Linked DNA regions of Homo sapiens: region 2 is linked to region 1. The links come from fine-mapping of genetic effects on gene expression. Tissue or cell type: whole blood. Region 1 holds a variant in brackets; the other region holds the start of a gene. All regions are shown on one strand. Distances are between the middles of the regions. Region 1 overlaps YWHAQ (tyrosine 3-monooxygenase/tryptophan 5-monooxygenase activation protein theta). Region 2 holds the start of YWHAQ (tyrosine 3-monooxygenase/tryptophan 5-monooxygenase activation protein theta).

Evidence for each region. PIP is the estimated chance that this variant, and not a neighbour inherited with it, causes the effect.
Region 2: YWHAQ starts here. The variant in region 1 is fine-mapped to the expression of YWHAQ in whole blood (TOPMed, PIP above 0.99).

Annotation. Positions count from the first base shown.
Region 1 is chr2:9,583,569-9,588,945 of GRCh38, forward strand. YWHAQ (tyrosine 3-monooxygenase/tryptophan 5-monooxygenase activation protein theta) reads right to left here. Exons shown (of 6, transcript NM_006826.4): 4 at 4,597-4,760; 5 at 3,846-3,941; 6 at 399-1,777. The coding sequence ends at 1,718. Among named protein-coding and RNA genes, the nearest start is that of ADAM17, 30 kb to the left of the region's middle. The variant A/C (reference allele first, on the strand shown) is at 2,841.
Region 2 is chr2:9,628,531-9,633,907 of GRCh38, forward strand. YWHAQ (tyrosine 3-monooxygenase/tryptophan 5-monooxygenase activation protein theta) reads right to left here and starts at 2,467. Exons shown (of 6, transcript NM_006826.4): 1 at 2,411-2,467; 2 at 1,629-2,004. The coding sequence starts at 1,922. RefSeq lists enhancers at 1,053-1,955, 1,699-1,798 and silencers at 1,919-2,268, 2,469-2,568, 2,619-2,788.

The sequences.
Region 1 (5,377 bases):
AATTTTTTGACTTTACAATGGTGTGGAAATGACAGGCATTCAGTAGAAAGCATACTTCAAGTACCTATACAATCAATGGTTTTCACTTTCAGTGTTCAACAAATTACCTGAGAGATCCAACGCTTTAGTATAAAGTAGGCTTCATGTTCTTTGATTTTGCCCAACTGTAGGGCTAAGTGTTCTGGGCACATTTAATGTAGGATAGGTTAAGCTATAATGTTCATTAGGTCAGGTGTATTCAGTGCAGTTTTGACTTCGTATTTTCAACTTGCAATGGGTTTATCAGGGTGTAGCCCCATTTTAAGTTGAGGAGTATCTGTGTCTGAACTCTTACATTCCTTTTGAATATCCACTGAAGCACAATTCTAATAACAGCCAAGGCACTCACAATCACATAATTAACTTTGCTAGTTTTAAAATGTCCACTTTATTCCATATAACACTTAACCAGATATCATTTACATCTGAGGAAGAGATGGCCCATGAGACTGATCTATAGTAAAACACTCTAAGAAATGCAGTCCAATTTTATACACTTCCAGGCATCCCTAGACAAGTGTGTCACAATGCACAATGTGGAAATATAGGTATCACTACTACATTTTACATAAAAGGGAAGTATCAATAAACTTTAGAAAGTAGTAAATTCACCTGTCCCTTAAAATATGGGTATGCAATTGTTACAAAGCCATAGTAAATGGTTTATAAAATGTACTTTTATTTTATGTTACTCTGCTGTTACATAGGGCATAACATTTTCACAAGGCTTTTTTGGGACTACAGTCAATGATTAGCAACACACAATAGTGGTCCAACTCTCTAAATAACAATCACTAGACAAACTGGACACCCTCTCACATGTGCACAAATCTGCATGGAAAAGTACTAAAGTTTTAGACTTGGACTTGTGTACTTTAATTTATTTCCCCTTTCTAGTGTATTAAGAAATGACATGCACTTTAATTTGCCAAAAGCAATGCTTGTATTCTGGCAGCAACATGCTACTTCTATCACATAGTAAAGTGAATACCAGAACTACAAAGGCAGGAGGTGTAAGTGAATTTTTATTGGGAGGGGAGGTTGGCAACTTAAACAGCAGCAAATAAAGAGTGAATAAGGAAACTCCCTGTTGCCACAGATACACAAGACCTCCGTATGTGATACAGGAGCCATTTCAATTTGTGACCCCTAGACAGAGATGGCAAGTGCTTTTCCATTCAATCTAATACTTCCGGATTCCTACTAAAAAGGAATACATTAAGAGCATGGAAAAGTTGCTTACTGAAAGGAAACCCCCGAAGAGTAAGGGAGGGAATGTAGAAATTAAGAAGTTATGTGGAATACTCTTTAAATTGTAATTAACTACATTTTCTTATTTTCACAGTAATACAAAACACAGTCACTTGCAGAACTGGTTCAGATTACTTAAATACCAGATACATTTTTAGTCCTCTACATAAGTGTTTGGGAGTTACTTATGTTTATATGAAATGAAGCTATTAATACTTTTCTACAGCAGTACTGCACACCAGGAAGGCCAAGACAAACACAAATCAAGGAATGAAGTTTTCCCAAAGCTGCAGTGTGAAAAGACTATAAACAGTTGATTCCATACACATGAATGGGTTTCTTTGCTATAGGAAATCCAAGTGGAATAAGGAATGGAGATGTGTAAAAAGGTTTCTTGAAGGAAAGAAGGATGACACCCTGTATGGATTTAGTTTTCAGCCCCTTCTGCCGCATCACATTCTTCTCCTGCACTGTCTGATGTCCAAAGCTAGAAAAAGAAGAATCATATTAAGTTACTATTTCTAGATTAGGCAATTACACTAAGTAGTATTGTTATATCAAAATTAACTACAAGAGTAGTAAATTCCTCAAACAATGGAGATCTTGACTAAGACTGAAGTTCTCTCTCAAAACCCCAAAGACCATCACCTTCCCAAAGTACATCCTTGCAGACCTTTCACTATGCACTTACAAAATGACATACATACATACATACATATACCACTGGAGCATGGTTTTATAGCTTCCTTTTTATTTAAAAAGCATTTGGCCAGGCACAGTGGCTCACGCCTGTAATCTCAGCACGTAGGGAGGCCAAGATGAGAAGATCGCATGAGGCCAGGAGTTCAACAGCCTGGACAACATAGCAAGATCCCACGTCTACAAAAAATTTCAAAAACAAAATTGGCCAGGTACGGGGTGGTGTGTGCCTACAGTCCTAACTACTCAGGAGGCTGAGGCAGGAGGACTGCTTGAATCCAGGAGGTTGAGGCTGGAGTGATCCATGATTATGACACTGCACTCCAGCCTAGGCAACAGGGTGAGATCCTTTCTCAAAAAAAAAAAAAAAAAAGAGAAACTTTTTTAAAAAGGCACTCTACTTTCAGAATAAGCAAAGTGATAGTCTCTATTCCCAGCAGCCCAATGCTCTTCTTGAAAGCACTACTGCATTATTATTACAGACTAATAAAGCAAAACATTTTCACAGGGAGGAAAAAGCCACAATCATGGTTAACAATTTTCAAGTGTGTGAAGGGCTAAACTATAGGAAAAGCAGACTTACTTTGTGTTTCTCCAAGAATTAAATAGAAGTGGGTGATGGAAGCTACAGGGAAGCAATGTGTGCATGTATAGACAGGGTTCTTGAATTAGACAGAATGTTAAAACTAAGTGGATCTTCCAGGATCTCTCTGATTTTAGGATAGGAAGATGAAGTGAAGAAGAGAAGTCAGTATTTATTGACTATAATTGCACTTTATTAGACCAACAGCAAGACATTAGTGTTAATTTCAGAAAAGCCAGAATCTTACATAATCCTTAGATTATTATGA[A/C]GATACTAAATAAAAACAAACAAAACAAAATCCCCCAAAGACCTGTCTCCATAATAGAGATAACAAAACAAAACCGATTAAAAGATAGTTAGCTCCAAGGTATACATCTGGGAAGAGGTATAACTGCCTAATTTGCTCTTCCTCTGTAGAACTATTTGCTGATCATCTTCCATTGTCCCCTCACAACCACAGGCACTTCTCATGGCTAGAAATGCAGGGTCTTCGTTCCCCTTTCAGTGGATTCATAATTACCCTATTCAGCAAAATTGAATAGACATGGTGCTAATATTTAAAAAATCCTATCTAGTAAATGATAAAGCACCAAACTAGGGGGCTGGGAGGACGAGATCTATATTAAAAGATTTGTTCCCTTCTTTTTCCTTCTGTGAAGTCTAAGATTTTACCTATCAAATTTACTTGAACCTACAAAAGAATGTTAAAGTAAAGCTTAAGCTGTACTTTTTCTTGATTACTTCCTTTATCAATTGCCTATCTAAGAAGCAGGGAGAAAAAGACAAACAAAACAGAAGCTTTTGCCTAGAAGCAGAGAAGGAGTAAGTTTAGGTATAGGTTTACTCCCTAAATGCTTGTAGAACATCATGCACAATTCACAAAGTAAACTTTTATTAGAACAAGGTACTTCCTGTGATTTTAAGAAAGCGTAGATATTTAGATAGTCCCTAACTGGCTATAGCTGATTTGCCCCAAAATATTGAAACTTGATAAGCTCTTTATTAACATAATTTATCAACATCTTCATCCCAATGAAATAGTAATATTAATATTGAGTTCCTATCATGTTAGAACCTTCTCAGGAAGGTCTGATAAAATGCCTATTCAACTTGAAAACCTGCCTACAAAATAATGTTCGTCCCATAAAATACTAACACGTATCTCATACTTTCAGCTCGTATGTATCTTCCCTAAAAGACACGAAGTCCAAAATAAAATATAAATACTTTTGTTTCTGAAAAGAAAATAAAATTAAAAGAGTAAACAACTCACTGTTAGGTTGTCTCTAAGCAACTGCATGATGAGGGTGCTGTCTTTGTATGAGTCTTCATTCAGTGTATCAAGTTCAGCAATGGCCTCATCAAAAGCCTGATAAATATTAATATCCATGGTAAAATATGTGCATTGACGAAAACTGGTTATTCTACAATTACAAACCATTTTTACAAAATAAGTGAACACCCACCTTATGTTCTACCATCAACAAACTCAACAGAACCATTCTCTCACACTCCCAGTTTAAGAACTTATGAGTATGACTGGAATTTTATAAAACTATACACTTAGTAAACAAGCATGTCTTGGTTCTTTCACAGGACAACGGAACAGCAGCAATGCTTAACAGACTTCTTTCCAGTTAAGTAGTACTTATCTCTACAGGGTCCTCTTTATTCTCTCGTTTTGAGCCACTTTGAGGAATGTGGCTGATGCACAGCTATTCTAGTAACCAAACCTGGCAGGCATGACTTTCTAATCTTTTATGTTTCCTTCTTAACATCATTTATCCTTCTTTGATTACTCTGCTCAGTATGCTCTGTAGGCACATCACTGCTTATAATCATAGGGTAGAGTAAGGTGTCAGGGGTAGGAGTAGGTAATCATGATGGGAAGAAAAAGAGGAGATTTCAAAATAAATATAGTAGAAATCATCCCTGGGTATCCAAGTAAAATACCTATAAATTAACATACCTGGTATCTCAAATAACTGTAGCTAAAGTACGTATTTCCTGGACACACATCTTACCGTTTTAGCCAGCGTGCAGGCAAGCTCTGGGTTATTAAGAATCTCATAGTAAAATACAGAAAAGTTAAGAGCAAGCCCCAGGCGGATTGGGTGTGTGGGTTGCATCTCTTTCTTGCTTATATCAAATGCCTCTTGGTAAGCTCCTTGGGAATTATCTATCGTTTCTGTGAAGAGCGAAAAATAAGAAGTGCAATATTAAAAATAACCATCCAGTACACAGTACATTAACAACTTGAACATATGCTACTAGCTCTTGGTAGAACCAAGATTTTTTCTCTGTATGGGTCTTTTAAAATCATGGTAGCTAACAAAAAACATTATCGTGGCCAGGCGCGGTGGCTCACGCCTATAATCCCAGCACTTTGGGAGGCCGAGGTGGGTGGATCACTTGAGATCAGGAGTTCAAGACCAGTCTAGCCAACATGGCGAAACCCCATCTCTACTAAAAATACAAAAATTAGCCAGGCGTGATGGCGGGCATCTGTAATCCCAGCTACTCAGGAGGCTGAGGCATGAGAATCGCTTGAACCTGGGAGGCTGAGGTTGCAGTGAGCCGACATCACACCACTGCACTCCAGCTTGGGCAACAGAACGATACTCTGTGTCAAAAACAAACAAACAAAAACAATATTGTGTACTGGGTATTTAAGAACTTGTTTATGGCCAGGTGCAGTGGCTCATGCCTCTAATCCCAACACTTTGGGAAGGTGAGGCAGGGGGATCACTTGAACCTGAAGAGTTCAAGACCAGCCTGGGCAACACAGGGAGATCTTATCCCTGT
Region 2 (5,377 bases), 45 kb after region 1:
TAACTAATTGAAAAGCAATAAACTGAACAGAAATGAAATATGCTGTAAGAGTATCCAAAATACATACATAGAAAACCTTAACATATGGAATTCTTATGAGTCTTCCCTTGGTAACAGATAATGCTGTTAACAGCCATTACCATATGTTACTCAAGTTGAAGTCTACCACTACTTTCAAGTTGGCAAAATTTTTTAATACGAGCAATTCAGTCCAAAAAGCTTTTACAAGTGCTTCTTCAATGCCAAGCAGGGACTGGAAGCTAAGAGCACACGGAAGAATACAACGAAGTTTTGACTTCATAAAGTAAATAATCTTAAGTTTTCTCCACTTTAGTACACACTGTCTGCATTACTTTCTTTGCCTCTTTACCAGTTATTTCCATCAGCCATGATTTTGTCCGGATCGCCTGTCATCGTATTAGAAAAATAGATAGGTTAAAAAAGTTTCGTGGATTTTTTTTTTTTAAACAAGGGGTGGGGAACATATTCCCTGCCCCACCATTCTGATGAGATGAAGAAAGGCGGCTTGGGGGGTGGGGGTGGGGGAGGAGGCCAGGGAGAAATTATTTCTTCCATTCCCTTTTGAAAAATCCCCAGTCTAGTATGCTTGTCTATCAAAGCCCACCTAAAATATGATGTGCACAAACACATCAAAAATAAGTAGGCCTCTTGTAAAAGTGACACTTAAAAGGCAAACCATATGAGATTATTTCCCATTTTATTCATAGAAATGACTCTTGGCAGCACTGAAACATTTAAAAACACTCCTGGATATAATGCTGGTATTTCAGTTTTAAAAACTTATCCTACGGATCAAAAGATCCATGGAATGACAAAGCTAAAAATGTTCTCTCTCACTAATAAGGGTGAATCACAGCAGCCACCTACTCCACCCAACAATCGTCCTTGCTAAGACTGGACAGTTCAAAACCTGGAAAGCTTTCCTTGTCTGCTCCACACTGGAAACGAATTCACTTCAACACTAGTGTTTAAGCACAGGTGTGCAACAGCAAGGAAATGTTATTAAATGTTGAAATTTACCAGGACATTGTGTTCTTCAGATACAGCTGTGTCCTTTTCACATTTCCCGAACTCCCCTCCTCTCCTGTTTATGGGGGGTGGGGGGGAGCACAACAGATACTCTTACTTGAAAAATAAAGTATCTGTTCAGATTTTCTAAGTAAATTTCCATTACTGGGTTTGGGAAAAAATCCCTACTACATTGTCTGTAACAAAAAGGTGCCTGCGCCTTCTTTCAACTGCCTGAAGCTTGTGAACCGACTGAATACATTTAAAGGGCTCACAGATCTCAGGACGCAGTCTCCCCGCACAAGAAACTTAAAAACGCCTTTCAGTCTCGCAGAGACCTACTTGGATGTTTCCAAGTTCCATCGTTTGGTAGCTACCCAGCATCTGGGGCGAAAAAAAAGGACTTATCCTTGGAAAAGCGGCTTCTTGAGTCTCAACAACCGGAGGGACACAGTAGGGAAGTCAGGGCTCACCTAAAACCCTCCACCCCAGCAGACAGTCCGGCAAGCCCCGGCTCACGTTTGTTTCCGTGCCCGCGAAACTCTCAATGAAAAGCATCTCACAAAAGGCCTCCCCTGCTCCCCGCGCCGAGGACTCACCAGCACCGTGGTGCAGATGGATCTCAGCTCGGACTCCACTTTCTCCCGATAGTCCTTAATCAGCTGCAACTTCTTGTCGGAGGTGTCGGTCTTCTGCTCGATGCTAGAGATGACCCTCCAGGCGGACCTGCGGCCCCCGACCACGTTCTTGTAGGCCACGGAGAGCAGGTTGCGCTCCTCGTTGGACAGCTCGGCGCCCTGCTCGGTCACTGCCTTCATGCAGGTGGCCATGTCGTCGTAGCGCTCGGCCTGCTCGGCCAGCTTGGCCTTCTGGATCAGCTCAGTCTTCTCCATGGCGGGCGCGGGGCCGGGGCCGGGGCGGAGGGCGAGGAGAGCGAGGGCGAGCGCCGACCCGCAGCGGGAGGAGCCTCGAGAGCTGCGGAGGGGCGGGGCGGCGAGGCGAGAACAAAAAGCAGAGAGGGAGCGCCGTCAGACAATGCGGCCCGCCGCCCGCTTTTGTCTCCCGCACACGCGGCCGCTTGAATTTCCCTCTCCCCCGCCCCCTCCCCCGCTGGGCACCCGGGGAGGCCGCGGCCCGCGGCTGGAGGAGGCGGGGGCGGCGCGGAGGCCCCGCGCGCAGGGAGCCCGAGCCGCGGCCGCTCCCGCCACCCCCGCCCGGCCGGCCCAAGATGGAAGCGACCGTTGGCCCCGCACCTTCCCGCCCGGAGCCGTCCCTGAGGGGAGCGGCATCGACAACCGGCTGCTCTCAAGGGCGGCACCTCCGCCCGGCCCTCAATCCGAGCGCGGCCGGAGGAAGCCCGCGGGCCGACCCAGGCGCTCACCTTCACGTCTCCGCGGCCGCGACGCGAGTCCCACCACTTTGATCTGCTTTTGGCTTTAGCTGAGGACCCTCCCGTGTCAGCCTACCCCGGGGCCGAGGGGCGGTCCACCGCCCAATGATGCGCCGAGCTTCTCCCGAGAGTCCCGCCCCCAGCGCGCCGCTGGCCAATGAGGACCGAGCGCGCGGAAGGGGGCGAGGGGGGCGGAGCGGGAGGGAACGCGGAGGCTAGGAGGGTGGGTCGGTACGGGGAAGTTCGGTTGGCCGGCAGGCTGCGGCTTCGGCCACGGGGTTTCCTCCAATTAGATCCAGGGTAAAAGGACGTCACTGTTGCCATGGCGATGCCGTTACCAACTCCCCTCAGCCTCCCCGCCACCCCGGCACTTCTGGGTGCGGCACGAGACCCAGAGGCGCGCACGACCTCCTAGGCGGCGGCTGCGTCTCCCGCTGCGGATGGTGCATTGCATCTCACGGGCTCTGGCCGAGGCTGGACTTCGGAGGGTGACATATTCAGCTGTTTTAGAGCACGGGGGCCTTTCTTTCCTCCACCTTTCTATCCGTGACAAAGGTTTGGATCCCAAGACACTAAACCCAGACCTTAATGACGTTGCCATTAGGGCTCCGAATTAAGCAAACCGCATCCCCATTAAAGAAGAATTGATTCTGGAGACGGTGTCTTCAGTATGGCATTTACATGATAAATTCAAGTTTTCAGATGGGCATCCTAAAACAAAAAATTCCCTTGTGAAAAGGTAGGTCCCAGAAGATCCAGGGGAGTTTCTGTGACAATGCCAAGTATTGTGGTTTTCTTTAAAATGAGAAATGACATTAAGCACAATTTGCAGGAAAACACCTATTACTACCCCTTCCCACCCCCGCAAAAAAAAACCCTGCCCATAACATCTCTCCCCGCAAAAAAAAAGCAATTTTTATGTATCTTTTAGGCTTTCCAGGTTATGCACCTAAATACATCATTTTTCACATCGTTGTCACATGTGCACACGCTTTTGTTTCTGGTATTATTTGTGAGAGGTCACTTGAAAAGCTGAAATCCTCTCCCTGGATGTTGATTTCTGATTTTCTCCTCCTGGGGAACACCCTGCTGAAGCGAGAAAGATTCCCCCAGGCCCCTCCCATTCAGGGTCATCCCTGGCAGCTCCCTTTCCTCTTAAACCACTCCTGTCTCTCCTTGCACTTCCCCAGTTCCCTAACTCCATCCAGGTAGGGTGGCTGCCCTGCCCGTCTGGCGCGTGGTCCCTGTGCCATCTTAAGATGAGAATTGCCCTCTGGGTTCACGCTGCTATGATCCCGATTCCAGCAGGTCTAAGGAGAATGGATCATAAAGAATTTCCCATTCTGAGTGGAGACTGGAGCAAATCCGGAGAATCTCTAGAATGGGAGATTTGAGAGTGCAGACAGATGGGAGGAGAAGGTGCCGACTTTCCAGAAATTCAGACTCCCTCTTGACTGCCCCTCCCTGTCCTGACTTGTGAAGGTTGCTTTGTGCTTTGACAGACAGGAGCGGCCTGGATTGGAAAGGGCCTGTGTCTTAATGCAGAAATGCCTTACTATGTTCCAGCCTTCTAATGGAGGGCCCTGCTGTTATTTCTGGAATCCCTGGGGCCCCGCTACAGACACATGAGTGTTTATGGCCCTGTGGGCTGGGGTGGAGCTGGACACCGAGAAATCCCAATGGAAAGAATTTGCATGTGGAAGGTCAGATAAAATGCCTTCTGTATGACCAGTGAATTTCAAGCTCACCAAAATTAGAGGCAACCCGGGCAAGGGGAGAAGCCAGTGGAGGTGGATGGGGGATAGAGACCCAGGAGAGGAAATTGTCAGGGGATGGAACCTCTGTGGTAGAGAGGGACTACCAGAAGGAGCAAGCACACTAAATTCTTTGTCAGAAAGTCTAGGCTGTGCTGTGGTCTCCCCCAGTGACCTTGGGCAAGTTTTTGCTGCTTTCTGTACCTTAGTCTCTGAAATTTCTGCTTTCATTCAATCAAATATTTATTGAACACCAACTCATCTAGTTGCAATCATCTGGAATCATGGGTAAAAACTGCTTCCAACCAATAACACAGTATAAAATTGCATTTTAGGAAGATTCAGAGGACCCTCTACATAGCTAAAGGCTTCTGTGCCTGAAAGAACTCGGGTTGGAGAGAAACAAGGCTCTGGGAACTTGAAGTCCCTGGACACAGAAAGAGCTAACCTGTGTTGAGTGATTGCATATGTCAAGCACTATTTTAAGTCTTTTGCAAGAATTAACTTATCCAATCTGCTTAATGCAACTACAAAGTAGGTGTTATTATACTCACTATCTCTATTTCACAGACAAGGAAATTAAGGCACAGGGTGGTCAAGCATGACGTACAGGGCCACACAGCTAGAGAGCGGCAGAACCTTGGATATGGACCCCATGCAGTTTGGGTGCCAAAGCCCATCTTTTTAACCACTGCTGAGGCTGCCTCACCAAGTCTCCCCAGATCTCTGCTAGATGCTGTAGAGATCCTAGGATGGATCAGACCAGCCTCTGTCTTCTAGGAGCTTCACCCTAATAAATGTGAAACCTGTTAAGCATCACATCCAACATACTGGGAAGAAGTGCAAGGAACAGACAGCTAGCAAAGGGAGTACTGAGAAATTATTACTTTATTTATGAAGTTCTTATTATTTTTTCTAAGTTACCTGGTATGAAGAAGCTCCTGGAACAAAAAGGAGCACATTAACATGGAGCCAGAAGACCCTAAATTCAGCCCTGCTATTTATATGTGATTTGACCTTGGATACCTTGATCTTCTCTGAAACTCAATTCTCTCTACCTGTAATCTATAAAAATAATCCCAGCTGGGCACAGTGGCTCATGTCTGTAATCCCAACACTTTGGGAGGTCGGGGTGGGTGGATTGCTTGAGCCCAAGAGTTCCAGACCAGTGTAGGCAACATGTCAAAAACCTGTCTCTACAAAA